Homo sapiens: one gene and its partners. Changing the gene in region 2 together with the main gene of any one other region gives a genetic interaction. Each region holds a gene or a part of one and is shown on either strand. Other genes may lie near its edges.

Region 1 (3,500 bases), on a different chromosome or scaffold from region 2:
ACTGTTATGGGGTGCCATAAATCATGCCCTTTTAAGATGGTGAATCGATACATGTTATGTGTTCTGACAGCTCCACTAACTGGCTATTCCTGTTTCTCTCCCCCTCTTCTGGCCTCCCAATTCCCTGAGACACAACAATATTGAAATGAGGCCAATTAATAACCCTACAATGGCCTCTAAGCGTACAAGTGAAAGGAAGAGTCGCATATTTCTCATGTAAAATCAAAAGCTAGAAATGATTATGCTTAGTGAAGGAGGCACATCAAAGCCAAGACAGGCCAAAAGCCATGCCTCTTGCATCTAACAGCCAAGTTGTAAATACAAAAGAAAAGCTCTTGAAGGAAATTGGAAGTGCTATTCCAGTGAAAATGTGAATGGTAAGAAAGCAAACAGCTTGGCCAGGCGCGGTGGGTCACGCCTGTAATCCCAGCACTTTGGGAGGCCGAGGTGGGCGGATCACGAGGTCAGGAGATCGAGACCATCCTGGCTAACACAGTGAAACCCTGTCTCTACTAAAAATACAAAAAAGTGTATGCCTGGCTAGGCATGGTGGCAGGTGCCTGTAGTCCCAGCTACTTGGGGGGCTGAGGCAGGAAAATGGCGTGAACCCAGGAGGTGGAGCTTGCAGTGAGCTGAGATCACGCCACTGCACTCTCCAGCCTGGGCGAAAGAGCGAGACTCCGTCTCAAACAAAAACAAAAACAAAAAAGCAAACAGCCTTATTGCTGATGTAGAGGAAGCTGAGTGGTCTGGATAGATCAAACCAGCCACAGTACCTTATGCCAAAGCCCAATCTAGAACAAGGCTTTAACCCTCTTTAATTCTGTAAAGGCTGAGAGAGGTGAGAAAGCTATAGAAGAAAAGTTTGAAACTAGCAAGGGTTTGGTTCATGACGTTTAAGGAAAAAGCTGTCTCCATAAGAAAAAAGTGCAAGGTGAAGCAGCAAGTGCTAATGTAGAAGCTGCAGCAAGTTTATCCAGAAGATCTGGCTAAGATCATTGATGAAGGTGGCTACACTAAGAACAGATTTTCAGTGGAGACAAAATAGCCTGCTATTCAAGGAAGATGCCATCTAGGACTTCATAGCTATAAAGGAGAAGTCAATGCCTAGTTTCAAAGTTTCAAAGAACAGGCTGATTCTCTTGTTAGGAGCTAATGCAAGCTGATGACTTTCAGTGGAAGCCAATGCTCATTTACCATTCTGAAAATCCCAGGGCCTTTAAGAATTACGCTAAATATACTCTGCCTGTGTATTAGAAATGGAACAACGAAGTTTGGATGACAGCACGTCTGTTTATAGCATGGTTCACTAAATATTTAAAGCCTCCTGTTGAGACCTACTTCTCAGGAAGGAAGATTCCTTTCAAAATATTCCTGCTCATTCTGCAGCCCATGGATCAAGGAGTAATTTTGACTTTCAAGTCTTACTATTTAAGAAATACATTTTGTAAGGCCGTAGCTGCAATAGCCTCTGATGGATCTGGGCAAAGTCAATGGAAAACCTTCTAAAAAGGATTCACTATTCTAGATGGCATTAACAACATTCATGATTCATAGGAGATCAAAATATCAACATTAACAGGAGTTTGGAGTTAGTTGATTCCAACCCTCATGATGGCTTTGAGGGGTTTAAGACTTTGGGGGTGGAAATAACTGCAGATGTGGTGGAAATGGCAAGAGAACTAGAATTAGAAGTGGAACCTGGGCTGGGTGTGGTGGCTAATGCCTGTAATCCCAGCACTTTGGGAGGCCAAGGTGGACGGATCACGAGGTCAGGAGATGGAGACCATCCTGGCTAACACAGTGAGACCCTGTCTCTACTAAAAAATACAGAAAACTAGCAGGCGTGGTGGCGGGCACCTGTAGTCCCAGCTACTAGGGAGGCTGAGGCAGGAGAACGGTGTGAACCCGGGAGGCGGAGCTTGCAGTGAGCTGAGATCGGGCCACTGCACTCCAGCCTGGGCCACAGGCAAGACTCCGTCTCAAAAAAAAAAAAAAAAAAAGTGGGGCCTGAAGATGGGATGGAATTGCTGGAATCTCATGATAAAATGTCAATGGATAAGGAATTACTTCTTATGGATGAGCAAAGAAACTGGCTTCTTGAGATGAAATCTACTCCCAGTGAAGATGCTGTGAACATTGTTGATCACGAAAGATTTAGAATACTATGCAAACTAAGTTAATAAAGCAACAGCAAGGTTTGAGAGGACTGATTCCCATTTTGAAAGAAATTCTGTTGTGGGTAAAATCCTATAAAATAGCATCACATGCTCCAGAAAAATCTTTCTTCAAAGGAAGAGTCTATCAATGTGGCAAACTTCATTCTTGTTTTAAGAAATTGCCACAGCCACCCCAGCCTTCAGCAATCATCACCTTTATCAGTCAGCAACCATCAATATCAAGGCAAGACACTCCATAGTGAGAAGATTATGACCCACTGAAGGCTCGGATGATTGTTAGCATTTTCCAGTCATATTTTAACTAAGGTACATACATTTTTTAAAGATATACTATTGCACATCTATTAGACTATCAGTATAGTGTAAATATAACTTTTATATGCACTGAGAAAAAATTTATGTGACTACCTATATTGTGATATGCTTTATTTATTGCAGTGGTCTGGAACTGAACCTGCAGTGTCTCTGAGGTATGCTCATATTAAAAATTGGGTATGATCCAGCCTCATAATGGAATACTATGCAGCCACTAAAAATATTTACAGGACTTTATTTTCTAATATATTGAGGGAAAAAGAGGTGGGTTACAAAGTGGTACTATGTGGGATGGTTCTATTTTTATAAATCACCTATGTACTATTCATTCTGTGATTTTTGAATTCCTACTTTGCTAGGGGTTATGCTAGATTCTGGGGATAGAGATAAAATATGCAGTCCCTGAACTCAAAGAGATTGTGATAGCAGTCAGAAATATCTCAGCAGTGACTATAATGTATGAAAGGACATACAACGAAGACATGCAGAGGACGCTATACAGGAACGCAGGGCCGGGGTGATGAGGGAGAATACTCCTCAGGGCATGACTCCTTAACTGAGTGTCAAAGGAGATAAAAACATGTGCAAAGGCACAGGCATGACAGACTACAACCAAAGTGTAGTATAGAATTTTATTTTAATCATACTAAAGTTATTTAATACAAGAAAGCTCTGAGAAAGTTGAGGGTAGAAGAAAAGTAAACTATGGTGAGGTTTAAAACAGGGTAGGCCGAACACGGTGGCTCACGCCTGTAATCCCAGCACTTTGGGAGGCTGAGGTGGGCAGATCACCTGAGGTCAGGAGTTTGAGACCAGCCTGGCCAACATGGAGAAACCCCATTTCTACTAAAAAACACAAAAATTAGCTGGGCATGGTGGCACATGCCTGTTATCCCAGCTACTTGGGAGGCTGAGGCAGGAGAATTGCTTGAGCCAGGGAGGTGGAGGCTGCAGTGAGCCGCGATCACACCACTGCCCTCTGGCCTGGGTGACAGTGGGTCATTC
Region 2 (3,500 bases):
GGACAACTTATTTTGTGATGGTATTTGTAAATTGGAAGGTTTTTTTTTTTTTTTTTTGAGACAGTCTCGCTCTGTCGCCCAGGCTGGAGTGCAGTGGTGCGATCTCAGCTCACTTCAACTTCCTCCTCCCGGGTTCAAGCAATTCTCCTGCCTCAGCCTCCAGAGTAGCTGGGACTACAGGTGCCTGCCACCACACCCAGCTAATTTTTTGTATTTTAGTAGAGACGAGGTTTCACCGTGTTGTCCAGGCTGGTGGTGAACTCCCAAGCTTAGGCAATCCACCCGCCTCAGCCTCCCAAAGTGCTGGGATTACAGGCGTGAGGCACCACGCCCGGCGAATTTTTTTTTTCTTTTTTTGAGACGGAGTCTCACTTTGTTGCCTAGGATGGAGTGCAATGGTGCAATCTCGGCTCACTGCAACCTCCGCCTCCCGGGTTCAAGCAATTCTTCTGCCTCAGCCTCCCGAGTAACTAGGACTATAGGTGCGCACCACTACACCTGGCTAATTTTTGTAATTTTAGTAGAGACGGGGTTTCATCATATTGGCCAGGCTGGTCTCGAACTCCTGCCTCGTGATCTGCCTGCCTTGGCCTGCCAGAGTGCTGGGATTACAGGCGTCAGCCACTGCACCTGGTCTAAATTTGAAGATTTTTAAACTTCACATCCCTTAATATTTTCAACTTTTATACCTTATAAGGGTCTATTATATTTGTCTAACACTTTATATGAGTACAGCTATTCCTTAAGAATTCACATTTACTGCCTTAAATCCAAATATATTTTTGTCTTTTGAAAATAAAAAACATGCTGGGCACGGTGGCTTACGCCTGTAATCTCAGCACTTTGGGAGGCCATGGTGGGCAGATCACAAGGTCAATAGTTCAAGACCAGCTTAGCCAACATGGTGAAACCCGTCTCTACTAAAAATACAAAAAATTAGCCGGGCATGGTGGTGTATGCCTGTAATCCCAGCTACTCGGGAGGCGGAGGCAGGAGAATCGCTTGAACGTGGGAGGCAGAGGTTACAGAGAGCTGAGACTGTGCCACTGCACTCCAGCCTGGGCAACAGAGCGAGACTCCATCTCAAAAAAAGAAAAAAAGAAAGAAGAAACTTTAGTGACTTGTTAACATACGCATATGAAATTCTAGCATATAACTCATAAAGTTGTACAAAATGACTGAAATTCTCACAAATCAACAGGTTTCCAAAGATTAATAAAACCTCACTAAATTCATCTAGCCTAAGATGCTTAACTTGAATCCATAATCCTTAGTTATAACTTCCAATTTATAGGAAATATAGGAGAAAAAGGAACAAGCTAAATGATACAAGAAGCAACTAGTCAAATCCAGAAAAAGGGATAGCTTGCAAGATAAGTGTATATTATTTTTACAAAGCAGAGGATGGGTTCTGAAAAAGAAAAACTGATATAACCAGATGCAATGCATGATCCTTAAGTAGATACTAATTTGAACAAATCAACTATTAAGGACTTGAGTCAACTGGGGAAATTTTAATATGGTCTGGCCTAGTGGAAGAGTGGGGCTTTAAACACAGATTTTTAGTGCCCTCATTAGTATCCCACCTGTAGTTCCTGTAAGATGCAGCAAAAATTTCTGGCTTTTAATAAAAATGAATTTATCTGGGCATGGTGGCACATGCCTATAGTCCCGGCTACTCGGAAGACTGAGGTGGGATGACTGCTTGAGCACGGGATGGGGAAGTTGCAGTGAGCGGAGATGGTGCCACTGCATTCCGGCCTGGGCCACAGAATGAGACACTGTCTCAAAAAAGTTTATCTCAAATTTTGGGGATTAACAAGGGAAGAGATGAATAGAAATCATAAAACAATATTGGTAAGTGGATCTAAGGCCTTTTAAAACTAACAATGAGAAAACAGAAGATATATATTTTTTCAATGTTGTCATAATGAAGTAATTTATTCTCTATAACCCCAAAGAACACAGGTCAGAAGATCTGCAATACTTACTAGGTTTTATATCCATGTGAACCAAAGACATTGAATGAATATACCTCAAGCCTCGGCCAACTTGCAAAAGGAGATCCTTCAACTCTGCTTCTTTAAAGTAACTCATGATTCTGTAGTTTTCACTTATAGCATCAGCTAAACTTCCACCTAACAAAGATAGAAAATATTAGCATTTTCTTCTTTCTGAAATATTTTCTTTCTTCCATCTTTACCAAATGAGTCTCAACCAACCAATCTCAACCAAGAAAGTGTTATTTTATAGGACCTTCTCCCTTCAACCTGCTTGTGAAATCAAAATTTTATTGTTTTTTCAATAGGTAATACATTTGCATGGGTACAAAATAAAATGTAAAGTCTCTCTCTCAATCATACACCTCAGCAATCCACCTGTTTCTTTCTCAGAGTAAACCAGTATTATCAGGTTGGCTTTTTTTTTGTTTGTTTTTGTTTTTAATTTATAAGAGACAGGGTCTATCTATGTTGCCCAGCTGGAATCCAGTGGCTATTCACAGGCTTGATCCCACTACTTATCAGCATAGGAGTTTTGACTTGTGCTGTTTCCAACTTAGGCCAGTTTACCCCTCTTTAGGCAACCTGGTGGTGCCCCACTCCACAGAGGTCACCATACTGATGCTCAACTTAGATCGGCATAGATCGGCATAGATGCTCAACATAGATCGGCACTACAGCCTAGAATTCCCAAACCCAAATTCAAATTCCCTGCTTCAGACTCCCAAGCAGCTGGGACTACAGGCACTGCCACCACGCCCAGCTCAGGTCTATGTATTCTTTTCAACTTTTTGCATAAATAACAGCATATGTTCATTATCTTAAAGATCACTCTATACCAATATACAAAGACAACCCATTTCTTCTTGTCTTTATAGAATTCCATTGTATAATTGAGTAGAAATGCATTTATTGGCTGGGCACAGTGGCTCACGCCTGTAATCCCAGCACTATGGGAGGCCGAGGCAGGTAGATCACGAGGTCAGGAGTTCGAGACCATGCAGGCCAACATGGCGAAACCCCGTTTCTACTAAAAATACAAAAATTAGCTGGGTGTGGTGGCGTGCACCTGTAATCCCAGCTACTCAGAAGGCAGGAGAATTGCTTGAACCTGGGAGGCGGAGGTTGCAGTGAGCCGATATCGGGCCATTGCACTCCAGCCTGGTGGCAGAGTGAGACTCAGTCCCCCGAAAAAAAAAAAAAAAAAGAAAGAAAGAAAGAAATGCATTTATCAGTCCCTCATTTGATGGACATTTTAAAATTATTTCCAAGCCTTTGCTATTACATACTATGGCCTAATAAATAACCTTGTACATTGGTAATTTCACGTACATTTAGTATATCACCTAGAAGCCAAATTGCTGGGTTAAAGGGTATGCACATTTGTAATATATGGAGATGGTGTGTTTTACACACACACACACACACACACACACACTCTTCTCCACAGAGAAGGCTGTACCAATATATATGCCCATTGTCAATGCATGAGCATACCTG
Region 3 (3,034 bases), on a different chromosome or scaffold from region 2:
AATCACCTGGGGAAGCATGTGCAGGACGTCAGCCAGGCTTCTTTGCCAAGATGGCAGGGAAGCCTCCAGTTACCCCATGGGCTCTCAGCATTGGTGTGGAGAGCAGGGAGGGGCTTTTTACAAAACTCTGATGGGGCTTGGGGGGACATGGCATCAGAGATTAGGTTTCAAGGCCAGGTTAGCTGCTTGGTAGAGGAAAACACTTAACCCAACAGAGCTATGGTTCCTGCACAAAAAGGACAGGAGATGCTGTCTTGCTGGCAGCAGGAGGTTGAAACCACTGTAGGTGACAGCCTGGCCAGTGCCTAGTCTCAGCTAGATCCATCAAGGGGGGGGCGGGGGGGGTCCATTTTCTTTTCCTTGGTTTTGCATTGCACAAGCTGCAGATGTGGCTCAACACAGGGACTAAAAACCCTTCCAGTCAACGTTGACGGGGTAGGATGAGCTGCATGCTGCTAACCTGAGTGGGCCATCGAGAGAGACTTAGAAATTCCAACAGGTTTGATTTGTGAAGCTTTAATTTGCAGTCGTGCCTGACCGTAAGCCTTCACTAGAGAGCCTCAATATGAACAAGGACACCCCATTACGGATGAGGCAACTGGGGCTCCAAGGATGAGGCTGCACACCCAGGGTGGCAGAAGAGGCCAGGAAGTGGGAGCTGAGCCTGGGTCTGTCTGATCTCAGATGCCTGGCCCAGTCCATGGTGCAGCCCAATCCTGCAGTTTGCTTTTGAGACACACAGTTGCCTGCAGAGATGTGAAAACCACAAAGGCATCTGATATCCAGAAACTATTAAGAACTCCTACAACTCAACAACAAAGACAGACAACACAATTTAAAAATGGGGGAAGAGACCAGGTGTGATGGCTCCTGCCTGTTAATCCTAGCACTTTGGGAGGCCGAGGCTGGTAGATCACCTGAGGTCACGAGTTTGAGACCAGCCTGGCCAACATGGTGAAACCCCGTCTTTACTAAAAATACTAAACAAATTAGCTGGGTGTGGAGGCAGATGCCTGTAATTCCAGCTACTTGGGAGGCTGAGGCAGGAGAACTGCTTGAACCCAGGAGGCAGAGGTTGCAGTGAGCCAAGATCGCACCACTGCACTCCAGCCTGGGCACAAGAGCGAAACTCCATCTCAAAAAAAAATAAAAAATAAAAAATAAAAAATGGGTGAAGAACTTAAATCGACATTCTCCAAAGAATGTATACCAATGGCCAGTAAGCCTGTGGAAAGATGGTCAATGTCATTAATGACTAGGAAAATGCAAAACAAAACCACAATGACACGCCACTTCATACCCACTAGGATGACAAAACACTAGGATGGCTATAATACAAGAAAAGGAAAGGAACAAGTGTTCACAAGGATATGGAGAAGCAGTAACCCTGGTGTGCTGCTGGTGGGTGTAAAGTGGTGCATCCACTGTGGAAAATTTGTAGGTTCCTCAAAAAGTCAAAACATGGAGTTATGGTATAAAACTACAATTCCATTCCTCGGCATATGCCCAAAATAACTGAAAACAAGTCATCAGACACTCATACACCAATGTTCACAACAGTGCTATTCACAATAGCCAAAAAGTGGAAACAACCCAATGTCCATCAACTGACAAATGGATAATCGTGTGGTATATTCATACAGTGGGCTATCAGCTTATCATAAACATCGAGGACTGACATGCTACAATGTGGATGAGCCTGACAAACATCAGCCAAGTCAAAGAAACCAGACACAGGATGTCATGTATGGTAGGATTTCATTTTTTTTTTTTTCTTGAGACAGAGTTTCACTCTTTTTGCCCAGGCTGGAGTGCAATGGCCCGATCTCAGCTCACTGCAACCTCTGCTTCCTGAGTAGCTGGGATTACAGGTGCCTGACACCACGCCCGGCTAATTTTTGTATTTTTTTAGAGACGGGGTTTCATCATATTGGTCAGGCTGGTCTCGAACTCCTGACCTCAGGTGATCTGCCCACCTTGGCCTCCCAAAGTGCTAGGATTACAGGCGTGAGCCACTGTGCCCAGCCTGGTATGATTCCATTTAAACAAAATATCCAGAGTAGGTAAACCCACAGAGACAAAAAGTGGTTGGTGGTACCCCGGAGCTGGGATAGGCAAAATCACACACGCAGGGCCACAACCCACACCCACTCGGAGATGTTCCAGGAACAATCTCAGGAACCTGCATTTGTAAAAATCCTCCCCAATACCCCATCAGAACACAGAGCCACTGGTCTATGGGCCAGGAGCCCAAGACCTGAGAACAATCCTAGTTTCTTCAACAACTAGCAACATGACTGGGCAACTCACACCCACCTCTGCTCATCTTCTAAACTGTAAATCAGAGTCCATATGGCTTGTATTATTCACAAGGTTTTTGTGAAGGCAAACGGGGGAACATGGCCACCACTGGAAAAAGTGGAAGATGGAAAGTTAGTGATCTGAATCTGAACCTTTCATTAGACATCTCTGCTCTGAGGGACCATCTGTGGGGTGAGAAGAAATTGGGCTCAGTGCTTACCATGTGGAAAGGGAGGAAGGGCTCTCCACATGGGACACAAGGGACAGCCATGAAGGACAGAGGCTGACGAGACCTCCCAGGGTGAGCTCCTTCCAGCACTGGCTGGTACCTGTTGCTTCTGCAAATGTTCCCCAGACCCTCTGCACTCTCGCAGGTCAGAGTAAAAAAAGGTTGGATTCTTTCATTTTAAAAAAAGTTTGAGACAGGGTCTTACTCTGTCACCCAGGCTGGAGTGCAGTGGTGTGATCATGGCTTGCTGCAGCCTCAAACTCTTGGGTTCAAAGGATCCTCCCACTTCAGCCTCCTGAGCAGCTGAACTAAAGACGTGTACAACTGTGCTTGTTATATTTTTAAAAATAGAGACAAGGTCTAACTATGTTGCCCAGGCTGGTCTTGAACTCCTGATCTCAAGCAATCCTCCAGCCTTGGCCTCCCTAAGTGCTGGATTACAGGTGTGAGCCTCCACGCCCTGCCGGGGTTGGATTCTTTTTATTTTTTTAAATTTTTAAATTT
Region 4 (2,172 bases), on a different chromosome or scaffold from region 2:
CTCTGCAGTCTCTTGCTGTTTGAGACAGCTGTAGTTGACCCACAGGTACAGATATGGCCTGAAGCCCAATTCTTTTTCAGCTACTGCTCCCCAGGGGCACTTAGTAATCTCAGCTAGATGAAGGCTTAATTCACTGTGCCCACCTCTTAGCTCTGAATGCTGATACTCAAACCGGATGAACAACTCTGGGAGGAAAGCTGATTGTGTGTGTGGTGGTTTCCTGGGAAACCACCTCCTCACCTCCTGAAGCCAAGAGTTAGCTGTATTCTTCTAGAGGCTTCAGTCTGCTCCATAGGATCGGTGGTAGAGACTGCAGGGGCATTTTTGTAAAAGTTTATTTGGAAACATTTCACTTACAGAAAAGTTATAAAATTAAAAACAGTACAAAGAACACCCCTATATATAATATCTGTACTCAGATTTACCTGTTACATTTTCTCCCCGTTGCTATATCACTTATGAGTGTGCCTGCCCTCCCATATGTGTATACATTTTTCCTCTTTCTGAACTACTTAAGGGTGTTACATATATCATGGCCTTTACCCCCAAATATTTCAGTGTGCATTTGCTGAGAATAGGGATACTTTTACATAACCATCATAAAATGATCCACTTTTGTAAATTTAACATTGATTAAAAACTTTTATCTGATATCTACCATCTGTAGAACATTGCTCATTTTGAGTTTGTCTGATGTCTCCCCATGATGAGATGCAGGTGAGGCACTCTGGCCAGAACCTTCACAGGGCACCACATCTGGGGGCACATGCTGTTTATCTGCTCCTCCTCGTGTTAATTTCATCCGCTGGTCAAGATGTTGCTCCATTTCTCTACCGTATAATTACTGATTTTCCCCCCTTGCACCTAATAAGTAGTCTGCAGGAAGACATTTTAAGGCCATGCAAGTATCTTGCTTTCATCAAAATTTCCCTCTGGTGCAGTCTTTACGATGAGCTTGCAAAATGATAACTTTCCAACTCCAGCACACCCTCCACAATTACCAGTCACCACTCAGTCCTCACTCCTGCCGATTCTTTTATATATACATTATTGGTACAGACTCATGAAGTTCTATTTTTTACTGATTTATAATTCATTGCTGGGCTGCTTTTGATGCCCCAATTGCTGTCTTTGTGACATGCCCCCATTGGCATGTTTTGGGTTTTTTTTGGGTTTTGTTTTGGGTTTAATTCCTTTTTCAACATAGCAAAATGTTTTGGGTTTGTCTTGCACTACCTTGGCTGGATATTTGTAATATAGGGAAACAAATAAGGTGAGGCGTGACTAAAATGTCTGCAGTGGACGGTGCACACATGTTTATTGGGCAGTTCTTTAGCTGTCCTCATCTAGACACTTCTGCTTCTCTTTTCTTCACCATTCTCAATCTTCCTTTCCAGCTTGGTCCAGGCCAATCCAGAGGTTGCCATGGATTCCATCATCCATATGACGCAGCACATATCACCCACTCAGCGAGCAGAAGTCATACGGATCCTCTCCACAATGGATTCCCCTTCCACGTAGGAAGAGCTTCCTGCCTGTCCCTGCCCTGTCTCTGGAGAAAAGGGCTAGAGCTGCCTTTTACAACTGTAACCACTGTAATGAGAAGGCACAGGAGACCCAGCACTGGAGTCAAATGGCATTTTACTTCCTCTCGTTTCAGGTTATGCATGACATCCTGGGATGTAAGATCACAGAATCCCCCTCCAGCCCACCAGTCACACCTACCCCATTCAGTATTTATTACCCTGGCCAGGCCTAGTCCTCCACTCCCTGCACAGGACTGAGAAGGCAATGAAAGGTACAAACATGTACCATGAGGTCTTACTAACCAAAGTAGGGCTGCCCCTCCTGTCCTGACAGCCCCTTGGCCTCCCAGCATGGGGAAGCGTGAGGAGTTGCCCAGCAGTGAGCAGCCCCCCTCACTCCTGGCCCCATGAGCCGCAGCCACAGGCAGCAGAGGAGGGCTAAGGAGAGGAGGAAGCCTCAAGTCCATTGTTTATTACCCCGACTCTTAGCCCAGCACACAGTAGGCACTGGAGAGGAATGATTCCCAGTTTAACCACACTACGGTACCTTTTATGAAGAAAAATTAGAGCATAAAATCTACTACAAGCTCCATAGGAACTCAAAGATGAGGGCAAAACTGTGAGCCAAGAAGCAGAGAAAGAAAAT
Region 5 (3,500 bases), on a different chromosome or scaffold from region 2:
AGAAGAGGGAAGGGGTCTCAGCCAGTGTAGGAGGGAGAAGTGGGTGACAGAAGTGCACAATGGTCCTTACCCATAAGTGTCAATTTCCGGGGCCTCTGCTTGGATGTGATGACTTGCAAAGACGGTGCTATGGACTGAATGCGAATGATTGGCTGGTTGGGGTCATATGTTCCTGGCACAGCCAATTCAAGGTCCCGGCACATCAGAAGTTTTGGGGAAACATATTGCAGCTCTAAGGATGTGAGCTGTAAATAATTACCAAAGGATTTAGTGTTCTGCCTCCAGGGAAGAATTTAAACGCAATTTAAGTATTTTTCAGTGGATTGCTAATAACAATTACTTGTCCCAAAGCAGAAGTAAAACCAGATGCTTTGGAATGAGTGTTAGAACATTCATAGACAGTAAAACAGAAAGGACTATAATGACAGTTAACCCTGCCAGGAGCCTGAAGATCCTACCTGAGGCAGCTGCTTTGAGATTCGTCGGAACACATGATAATAGAGGTCCCAGGCTTGGGTGAGGTCCTTGACATTCCCTGATTTCATGTACTTCCTGCACCACTCTTGGGCCTCCATTAAATCTCGACCATAGGCCTGAGAGAGAAAGCAGGCACGTTTTCAAGTTATCAAAGTCTCAACCAACCCAGGAGGCAAAATCCCCAGGCTGACTGCAGATATTCCTCAGGAGCCCGCTGTGGCCTGAAAACACTGGCAGGGGGCTGGAGAAAGCAAGAGCATAGGTGCAGGCCTCCAACCCTGGAGCTTCCAAACCAGCAGCATGGCTTATAGGGAAGGAAGGGTGAGAGGAGAGACGAGATGACCTCTTGAGAAATCTTGGGCTTTTCCAGTTAAAATTCAGAAGGGTCCCTGTAACTAATTTCTGATGTTTTATGCTCTGTGACCTCCATCAGAGCTCGTTTTATTAAAGTCAGTGGAAAGGCCAGAGGAAAAGAAATCTGACAAAGGCCTTGGGTCACGTCCTTTCATTCTATAAAAACTTTTCTCATTTCATTTTTTTTTAGTGGCAGAATATTTCTACAGGGTTATGTCCTTTCGTGTTTTTTACCCCATACCTGATTAAAGGATGTTTCCTTCAGAGTCTGGGGGCCCCGTTCCATCATAGCATGCAAGGGCTCCAGCACCTCAAACATGCCTTTCACGTTCCTTTCCCCAAAGTACAAACGAGATGCCTCTTCCAGGCCTTCATGCCACATCTCATGCCAGAGGATGGCCACTCGGATCAGCTCCTCGCTCACCTGAAGCCAAGAGAAGAAGGAGAGAAGCATCAAGAATCAGCTAACCTCAGAAAGGTCTGTTTTGGAGACACAGGAGGTACTATTTCCAGCAGTCAGAGGAAGTGCACAGCACCAATGCGAGGAAGAAAAACAATCCCACTTGCGCCCACCAGCTAAGGGACCAGGGTCTATGAAGCCCCACAGTGGCTCCGACCCACCATCATGGCCTGCTGGACCAGGGTGTTGCTGTGCTCACACATGTTCTTCAGAATCTTGTTGGCTGCATTGTGCCGGGCTGTCGTGGTAGACTTAGAAGCCACTGTCAGTGGGTAGATGAGGGCCTGAGGGAAAAACAGAAGAAACATCTATAAAGGAAATGTGGGTTGGGGAAGAGCTGGTATGAATTTTAAGGAGAATAACAAAACAAGTGGTGAGTGTGACATTAACATCTGCTTGAGACTACCAGGAAGGGGCTCAGTCTTCGAGGGAACGCTTTCTTTTTAGCAAGGCTCCCGGGCCCTCTGGGACGGCTGGCTGGACAGACCCTCCTGGGCCAGGATGGAACACATGGCTCCCAGTTCCTGCGCTTGTGTCGCCAGGGCAGCTTTTGGAAAGGCTGACCACCAAACCAGTGGTTAGATGAGAAACTGCCCAGAGTCTCCACATACCTGGGGGTGGTACCGACCAATGTCTGTGAGAAGCTGGTGAATGAGACGTCCCACCAAGGGTCTGGGCGTATCAATTCTTGCAATGAGCTGAGGTATAACCTGGTATTCAAAAAGACACAGTATGTAGCATATGAGACTTGAAACAACTAGTTATTCTTCTAGGCAAAGATCAATTCTTTTAACTTGTTTCGGTTGATGCTCTGAAATGGTTCATTCCCTTCCCTTTAGTTTCTAAAAGAAAATAAAGAAAATATGGACACTTGACACTGGGACCGAGCCCTACTTCCTTAGCACTGTATTAACACACACTGCCTTGTGACACTGAACACAGCATGCTTGTAAGAGGAGACACACAGAAGAGAGACTTGGAGCCACCTTCACCTGTAACCAAGTATCCTCACCTGTAGCCAGGTATCAATCTGGATGGCTTTCACCCCCTCCACTAAGGCCTCATTGACATCTGGCCAGTGACCATAATCAAACCATAAGGTGAGAACTCTGAAAAAGAAATGAGAAAGTCACAGAAAATTTAGTTTCCCAGTTTTTGCCTGCCTGTTTTTCATCTCTAAGGCTCCTGAGAAGAGAGCTGGCAGGGACTCCAACCAGTAACTCTCAAATGTGTTTGGCCTCCCATGGGAGCAGGTGTCTGTGATGGGTGGCAGTGCTCTTGACTGAACACCGTAAGAGTCACCCTGAGCAAATGAGCATTTCATCCCAGGTCACCGAGGGGTCACCATGGCATGTATGCAAACATCAAACAGACGAGCCAGGATAACCTTTAGAAAGCCACAAGTCTGCACATGTAAGAGTCGCTGTACGGCAGAGGCAACAGGGACACCTGGCTCTTAGCTGGCTGGAGATCCTCAAATGAAGGAGGATGTGGACCTTGTCACCTTTACCCTCTGGGTTAACTGATTTGAGTCATTTGTTTAGACCTCTCCAAGTTGCTGAGGGATTTTAGAAATACTGTGACTTCAATAGGCAACAGGGTGGTCAGAAAAAAAGAAATATTGTGATTAACAGATGGGTTAATAATCCCTCCATAATAAACCACACATGGAGAGTTCTCACTCCACTTCTCCTCCTCACTCTCTGTAGGTTTCACCCACACAGGTGGGGCCCAGTCAGCTGTTACTCCTTAAATGCAGTGCAGAAAAAAGGCACATACATCGATCTTGGGTGTCCTGATCAGGGTCAGGAAGGGAAAGAGGACTTTTACGTGTGACTTCTAGGTCTTGCCATTAACATGGCCTACCAGAGTTGCATCCTTCCCTTCTCTGATACCTGAGTGTATCCTGGAGGTTGTTGCCTCGTGACAAGGAGATGGAACGGAAGAAGCCCTGGACGGCAGGCACCGTGTACATCAGGAGGGTTTTGGACAGATCCTGTTGGAACACACACGTGTTAGCGACACTCTTGCCTCTGCTTTCTCATCTGTAAAATGGGCATAAGAGCATACTAACTGTACCTACTTCAAAGGGTGGTTATAACAATTAAATCGGTTAATGCATGAAAAATCTTTAATCATTACCTGGCACATAGCAAAGACTCAATAAATGGCAACTGTATCATAACTGTTATTATCTTGGGCTGACAGT
Region 6 (3,500 bases), on a different chromosome or scaffold from region 2:
TGGATCTCACAGATAGAATTCTACCTAGGCTTCAAGCTAGAGAAAAATGTAAGCCACAGCTGTTGAACTTCCCACCTTATACCAGAAATCAGATAGTCACTATTTTGCAAGATCGACTTAATCAGGTCAGTGCCAACTATTTTGCCAAATTATGTGTTCCTTGGATCACCTGTGCTAGGAAAATTTAACAATAGTTCTAAAATATTTTTGCCTTGATTGCTTTATTAATGGAGCAAGGAGTTCCTATGGACCATAGTGAGAACATTTTTATGTGAATTTCAGCTTCATTCATTTACTGGGTGTCTCAGTGTTGAAATAAAAGCAGGAGTTAGAGGAATCACCCAAGCGCTTTTTTTTTTTTTTTTAGATGAGTTTTGCTCTTATCGCCCAGGCTGGAGTGCAATGGCGTGATCTCGGCTCTCTACAGCCTCTGCCTCACGGGTTCAAGCGATTCTCCTGCCTCAGCCTCCCCAGTAGCTAGGACTACAGGCACCTGCCACCACGCCCAGCTAATTGTTGTATTTTTAGTAGAGCTGGGGTTTCACCGTCTTGGCCAGGCTGGTCTCGAACTCCTAACCTCAGGTGATATGCCTGTCTCGGCCTCTCAAAGTGCTGGGATTACAGGCATGAGCCATCGCACCCAGCCTCAAGTGCTTTCTTTAATGACCTTTAAAAAATAGGGCCTATGAAAAAACTTTTTCTGTTGAAAATGACTAAATAGATTTTTTATTTTTGCTAATTTCAGTTCTGATTGCTTTTTTCCATTTATGAACTTCTACTGCATCCGTACAAAAAGCTTAAATGTGTGAAAACTCTCAAACGTCTCCATTATTTATGAGAAGAAAAGGCATCTTTTTAACCCTAAAGAGTTGCCAATCAAGTTTAGGGTTAAATGTGAAAATATTTATGCTTGGGACCTAAATTACAGAGGGAGAATCTTATGGTTCAAACTGTCATCTTCTATGTCTTGTCTGAAGGTATCTAGAGATCAGGTTCTGGACAATGCTGCAGTTCAATTCTGTGCCCGCAAAGTCTCTGCTGTTTCAGGAGATGTTCGCAAAGCACTGGATGTTTGCAGGTGAGTTACGGCTCTGTTGCATTCTTTTATTAAAAAAAAAAAAAAAGAAATGCTGTTAATTGTCTCATGTAACTCAAGTGAATGTGGCTTAAGAGGCTCTGTTCTGCTACTTTTTTACGCTCAGAAAGGAGGACTTGTTTCTCAGTGGGGAGCTCTGGATTTCCACCGTGTTAATGTCTGAAACATTATCAGTCCATTACCTACAGAGGGAGAAACAAATGAGATGTTGCTGGCACTCCCTGTGGTGATTATAGATTGGTTAATTACATTTGTATTAAAAAAGACTCCAGTTTACTTTTCCATTAGCTGGTCTCAAGCAGGTTTATTTATGGACCTGAACCGTCTTTGCCTTTAGACTTGTTCCCCTTCCTTTCCTTTTGTGAGCACCCCTTCTTCCCTTCAGTTGGTGGTCCCCCACAGTTGTACTCCAGACCTCTTTCTCCCTTCCCATCCTCCTGCCCCTCCTGCTGGGGAAAGCCTCTGTGCCGACTGATGAAATTTCTTCCTTCCCAGTAGGGACACTGGGTCCATTAAAATGATACTTGCTGTGCTGGCCTGCTGGTCCAACCTCCCCCTATTGCTATGCAGAAGACCCAGGTCTGGCTTATGGCTTCCTGTGGGCAAGTACTTTGGAGAGAGCAGTGGGAGAGTAAGCTCTTCCTATTGCTAGATTGCATGATCCTGAATTTGAAAGTTTCCCCTAATCAGCAAACTACTTGGGTAAAGACTGCAACTATGAGCAATAGTCATGTAGGCTAGCGTGGTTTAGCCTACACATATCCTATGTATATATAACTGAAGATATCCCTTTTAGGTTTGGTGTGTATGGGTGATGCTGACTCCCTTTAGTCAGTCACCCACACTACATATCCTCTCTCCTACCCATGACATTTTCTCCTCATCCAAAATGTTATCATTGGCTTAATGTATGATGACCTACTTGGCATCCATTAGGAGGAAACCATTGAAGTTTCTCAAATCTGATGTCCATGAATTATTTCAAAGCAATTAAGTCCCCTTATCTGAGAAATAACCCAGTTTTGTTTGGGGGCTTTAAAATTATAAAACATCATAATTTTAAAGTTACACGTAGGATATGTGTAGGCTAAACCATGTTAGCCTACATGACCATTGTTCATAGTTGCAGTCTTTGAGCAATGGTCATTAATGTGCCGCTTTTGAGGCTGGTGGTTTGGTGTGTTTGGTTTGGCTCAGACTAAATTAATTTTAGAAATTTTTTTTATAGGAGAGCTATTGAAATTGTAGAGTCAGATGTCAAAAGCCAGACTATTCTCAAACCACTGTCTGAATGTAAGTAGTTTATCTCCTTCCTGTCTTCCTTTGTAACTAGAAGCTTAGCTTTTCTGAGGAAAGAGGTAGAAAGATGAAATGAACATAGTTAAATCCAAACTCACCCATTTTTATGTGTGTCTGTGTTTTTAGTCCGTTTCGTCTACTTTATTTCAATCTTGCCTGCCAGTACTATAGTTCGTGCATTACTGGAAATGAGTTCCCAGGGTATTGATTGCGTAAATGGCTGGGACAGAGTAAGTTTTTTTTCCAAGCTCTGGAAATGAAACTTGTAGACAATGAGGTTGGATCAGCTCTCTGGGTGCTTATGTTGCGTGCACTTTAGGTCTCAATATAGGTGAAAGCAAAGCCTGATAAATAAGGGAGAATTGGGTAAAAGAATTGTGAAGCCAGGTGCGGTGGTTCACACCTGTAATCCCAGCACTTTGGGAGGCCAAGGCGGGAGGATCGCTTGAGCCCAGGATTGTGAGACCAGCCTGGGCAATATAGTGAGACCTTGTTTCTACAAAAAATTTTAAAAATTTTGCAGCCATTAAAAATATGAGTTCATATCCTTTTTAGGGACATGGATTAAGCTGGAAACCATCATTCTCAGCAAAGTAACACAGGAACAGAAAACCAAACACCACATGTTCTCACTCATAAGTGGGAGTTGAACAATGAGAACACATGGACACAGGGAGGGGAACATCACACACCGGAGGCTGTTGGGGGTGGAGGCCAAAGGGAGGGAGAGCATGCAGGACTTAAAACCTAGATGACAGGTTGATGAGTGCAGCAAGCCACCATGGCACATGTATACCTATGTAACAAACCTGCATGTTCTGCACATGTATCCCAGAACTTAAAAAAAATTAGGCAAGCATGGTGTGTGCCTGTAGTCCTAGCTACTTGGCAGGCTGAGGCAGGAGAATCACTTGAGCTGGAGAGGCAGAAGTTGCAGTGAGCCGAGATGGTGCCACTGCACTGCCAGCCTGGGCAACAGAGCGAGACCCTGTCCCAAAAGAATAATAATAAGAAGAATTATAAGTTCAACTTGGGATATCTCAAGCTTTTAAACAAGTCTAGAGGGTAGAGGTAAAAAGATCATACTGCTACAGTAAGCTGCATG
Region 7 (3,500 bases), on a different chromosome or scaffold from region 2:
GGTGCTGAGAGCAGGTTCCGGTACTGAGAAGAAACGACAGGCACCCAGTTCCATGCCAGCTGGAGACAGTGCTCCAGAAGGGGGCAGGAAAAAACCAGCACCGAGCTTTCCACCACCCGCCCACCAGGCATGGATCTGGGCTGAGCCGCGGGAGAGGACATGTGCCCTGGGGAGGGGAGCGCTGGGAGGGTAGCAGAGCCCAGGTCCAAACGCCAGCTGCGCAGGGCAGTCAGGGCAGGGGGCAGAGCATGTGCGAATCAGAACGGCGGTGGCAGCAGTTACAGGGGTGCAGATCCCCAGGACCTGCCATCTGGGGAGGAGGGCAAGGAAGTTAATTTTGGACTCAGATAAGTGCATCACTTTCTAATTTCAAACTTGTAGAAAGACGACAAATGCTGCAGACTGATCAGCCGATCAGGGAAGTGCGAGGAAGCGCACACGAGAGGGAGCAGTGGTGGACGAAGCGCCCCACCCGGCCACGGGGACTTACACCCACCACATCAGAAACCCCCTCAACACGGGTGCGCTGAACGCTGCAGTGAAAAGACAACCATTGTGCGGCTGGAAAACAGTAAGCACTGGTGTGATCTTCAGAAAAGCCACACAGAAAACACAAGGAGATGGAAGGGTGGGAATGAAGAAAGCGCCCCTGGGTTTCACCAGATCCAGCGGAGGGGGCTTCCCGCAGACAGGCTGCTCCAGAAGGCTCTGTGGGCCCTGAGGACTCACCGGGATCGGGGCTGTGGCAGGGCGCTCCCCCTGGTAAGCCTCACAGCCCCAGCCCCCTTCACAGCCGTGAAGTCTGCAGGGACTTCTGGAAACATTGGTTTTTGGATAAGAGACACAGGTGAGAAAGGAACTCCCTGGCTGAGCCCTTCTCTGTCCCTGGTCTGCAAGCGTCGTGTCTGCAGCTGTGGCAGCAGCTGTGATCACAAGGCCACCAACAGGAGGATAAAAACCAACAGCCAAGGATGGAGGGTCAGGACAGCGAGGCCCTGCCCTGTCACCAGGCTGCTGCGGCAGCTCCATGAGCACTCCGGCTTCTCGCCACAGACAGCGTGCTGAGGTTCACGTAGCTGAGGCCCGGGGAGACGGGGGAGGATGGAAGCTGGCAGGAGGGTCCCCGGATGACAGCCAGGCGGCTGGCATGGGGAGCAGGGGGCAGGGGCTGCACGTGGGGCCTGAGTTTTGAGCATTTACTAACTCGGGCGAAAAAAGATGCTGTAAGAAAGAAAACCATCCCCTGCACCACCACACCAGGTTCAACAATGGCCAGTATGCACCCAGTCACAACCCTGACAGCTGATGTCACCCAAACTAGGTTCTAAGTATGGGCAGGGAGCTGGGGGGAGAGGAAGTTGGGGTACACAGGTGTAGGCACGCTCAGTCCTCACAGCCCCCAAGAGAAGTCCATGGATAATCAGTAACACTGACAAATCAAACATTACAACATAAACACGTTTAGGAGCCCAGATGTAAATATTTTTTAAAAAAATAACTAAAAGACGGCCGGGTGCGGTGGCTCATGCCTGTAATCCCAGCACTTTGGGAGGCTGAGGCGGGCGGATCACGAGGTCAGGAGATCAAGACCATCCTGGCTAAAACAGTGAAACCCTGTCTCTACTAAATTTACAAAAAAATTAGCCGGGCGTGGTGACTGGCGCCTGTAGTCCCAGCTACTCGGGAGGCTGAGGCAGGAGAATGGTGTGAACCCCGGGAGGCGGAGCTTGCACTGAGCTGAGATCGCACCACTGCACTCAAGCCTGGGTGACAGAGCGAGACCCCGTCTCCAAAAAAAAAAAACTAAAAGACTTTATGTGGCTCCATTTTACCTTTTAGACAATATGCATGTATTACTTTGATAAAAATAAAAGTAACTGAAAGAAATCCATGTAGTTAAGAACACACACACACACACACACACACACACACCTGAAAATCCCATAGTACATCCCGCCCTCGGTTTAATAATCAGGGTAGGCAAAGGAAGGAAGGCTTAGCCAGCCAGCGTTTTGTTAACCTGCCTTATATAAACTGCACACACCCACCCACACCCTTTATGTAAATAGAAATAAATGTACCTTTCTTAATTGCAGCAATAATTCTGGGATTCAGGTCCAGTAGATCCAAATCCATTTTGTCGGTGGGCTGGCCACCAGGATGAATAACTTCCCAGGAAAGACAGAACAATGGATGCAAATTCTGAGGCACTCGCCTTCAATTCAAAGCCTGTGGGAGGCCCGAACCAGGGAAGTGACAGCAGCCGAGGTGTCCGTGTCATCGGGGCTCTGTCACTGAGGGTGGAGGAGACTTCACTGTAGAGGGAAGGCTGTCTAGCTACATCTAGGGCAACATGTCTGTCATTTACCTCTAAGAATTATTTAGCAGCTTAGAACCCATTCCAGACACTGATGCATTTGAAAAACCCCCCAAACCCACCACATTTACCTCCTGTGGAAAGTGCTAGAAATAAGACCATCCTCCTGCAGCAGTTGAGTGCCCTGCCCGACTCACCTCTCTGGGGCTTGGGGATGACCCGCGTGTTTTTGGCTGACTTGACTGAGGCATCTCTTGCACTCTGCAGTTTAATTTCCCTTAAGTGTCTCCCTGGGGACTCTGGAAAGAGTGGGAAGGTGAGTCTGGGATTGGCAGGGTGCTCAGGGATCCAAACATCAGTCGCCCCCAGCAGCCAACAGCAGAAGACAGCTTCCTGTGGGACGGGAGGAAGGTGCTGTGGACCCCACCCAGCCTCTCCCAGGAAGGGAGCTGGCAGCCATTCCACAGCCCGAGCCTGGCCCAGCAAGGGAGAAGCTCAGCTCTTCTCCCCTCCGGCCTCAGCAGGCTGCTCAGGGACTCAGCCTGGGGTCACATAAGGCCTTTCCAACAGGCCACTCTGCATCCCCTGTCGGCCTCCCAAATGGTGAGACCAAGAGTGTCCAGGACATGGGGAAACTGGAAGGCAGCAGCCTCGAGGGCCGGGTCCAGGATCCATGTCCTCCAGTGAGGCCTGGCGCCCTTGGCCGTAACCCAGCAGAGGAAAGGGCGGGCCGTGGACTTGGAGAAGGTTTTCCCTTGGACCACACAGAATGCGGCACTGGCCTGGACACGATCACGCTGGTCACTCGTATGCCCATGTTCAGCCTGCTCAGGGAGACAGGAACAGACTACAGGAGCAGCAGGCTGAGGCACGCCCCCAGGCACCCCGTGAGGCGGGCAGGGCAGGGAAGCTGGTGCTCCAGGATGCGTTTCCTGCCCGCGCACCAGGCTTGGCTCCCGGGCCCCCACAGCCTGTGGGTTTTCTGAGCAAGGGACAGGGAGGTGCCCAGGCCTGGTTGCCCAGGCAGGCCTGACAGGAACTGGCGAGAAGCCACCCTGGAGGGCCGGGCGCAGGCCAAGGCAGGGCGGTGGGGCGCTGAACCAGCTCCAAACTGCTGGCAGAGCTGGCCAGAGTGAGGAAGTGAGGTTCCCAAGCACAGAAGGCAAATCAAAAAGGAATGCCA

What was found.
Region 1: changes in WEE1 (region 2) and DHFR are lethal when combined (synthetic lethality), as found in Homo sapiens cells (one large-scale study listed by BioGRID).
Region 3: changes in WEE1 (region 2) and TOP3A are lethal when combined (synthetic lethality), as found in Homo sapiens cells (one large-scale study listed by BioGRID).
Region 4: changes in WEE1 (region 2) and ACACA together harm fitness more than expected from each alone (negative genetic interaction), as found in Homo sapiens cells (one large-scale study listed by BioGRID).
Region 5: changes in WEE1 (region 2) and MTOR are lethal when combined (synthetic lethality), as found in Homo sapiens cells (one large-scale study listed by BioGRID).
Region 6: changes in WEE1 (region 2) and CDC6 are lethal when combined (synthetic lethality), as found in Homo sapiens cells (one large-scale study listed by BioGRID).
Region 7: changes in WEE1 (region 2) and XRCC3 are lethal when combined (synthetic lethality), as found in Homo sapiens cells (one large-scale study listed by BioGRID).

The regions. Positions count from the first base shown.
Region 1 is NC_000005.10:80,641,484-80,644,983, forward strand, and holds part of DHFR (dihydrofolate reductase), read right to left. Parts: intron 1-3,500.
Region 2 is NC_000011.10:9,580,170-9,583,669, reverse strand, and holds part of WEE1 (wee1-like protein kinase), read right to left. Parts: intron 2,139-3,500; coding exon 1,992-2,138; intron 1-1,991. UniProt on the Homo sapiens protein: Acts as a negative regulator of entry into mitosis (G2 to M transition) by protecting the nucleus from cytoplasmically activated cyclin B1-complexed CDK1 before the onset of mitosis by mediating phosphorylation of CDK1 on 'Tyr-15'.
Region 3 is NC_000017.11:18,270,928-18,273,961, forward strand, and holds the end of TOP3A (DNA topoisomerase 3-alpha), read right to left. Parts: 3' UTR 501-3,034; downstream 1-500. UniProt on the Homo sapiens protein: Releases the supercoiling and torsional tension of DNA introduced during the DNA replication and transcription by transiently cleaving and rejoining one strand of the DNA duplex.
Region 4 is NC_000017.11:37,086,665-37,088,836, reverse strand, and holds part of ACACA (acetyl-CoA carboxylase 1), read left to right. Parts: intron 1-1,397; coding exon 1,398-1,521; 3' UTR 1,522-2,172. UniProt on the Homo sapiens protein: Cytosolic enzyme that catalyzes the carboxylation of acetyl-CoA to malonyl-CoA, the first and rate-limiting step of de novo fatty acid biosynthesis.
Region 5 is NC_000001.11:11,126,552-11,130,051, forward strand, and holds part of MTOR (serine/threonine-protein kinase mTOR), read right to left. Parts: intron 3,288-3,500; coding exon 3,187-3,287; intron 2,401-3,186; coding exon 2,304-2,400; intron 2,002-2,303; coding exon 1,903-2,001; intron 1,576-1,902; coding exon 1,453-1,575; intron 1,256-1,452; coding exon 1,073-1,255; intron 594-1,072; coding exon 459-593; intron 246-458; coding exon 71-245; intron 1-70. UniProt on the Homo sapiens protein: Serine/threonine protein kinase which is a central regulator of cellular metabolism, growth and survival in response to hormones, growth factors, nutrients, energy and stress signals.
Region 6 is NC_000017.11:40,294,379-40,297,878, forward strand, and holds part of CDC6 (cell division control protein 6 homolog), read left to right. Parts: coding exon 1-125; intron 126-977; coding exon 978-1,078; intron 1,079-1,202; coding exon of another isoform or gene 1,203-1,322; intron 1,323-2,324; coding exon 2,325-2,389; intron 2,390-3,500. UniProt on the Homo sapiens protein: Involved in the initiation of DNA replication. Also participates in checkpoint controls that ensure DNA replication is completed before mitosis is initiated.
Region 7 is NC_000014.9:103,708,952-103,712,451, forward strand, and holds part of XRCC3 (DNA repair protein XRCC3), read right to left. Parts: intron 2,711-3,500; exon of another isoform or gene 2,617-2,710; 5' UTR 2,515-2,616; intron 2,295-2,514; 5' UTR 2,137-2,294; coding exon 2,082-2,136; intron 1-2,081. UniProt on the Homo sapiens protein: Involved in the homologous recombination repair (HRR) pathway of double-stranded DNA, thought to repair chromosomal fragmentation, translocations and deletions. Part of the RAD51 paralog protein complex CX3 which acts in the BRCA1-BRCA2-dependent HR pathway.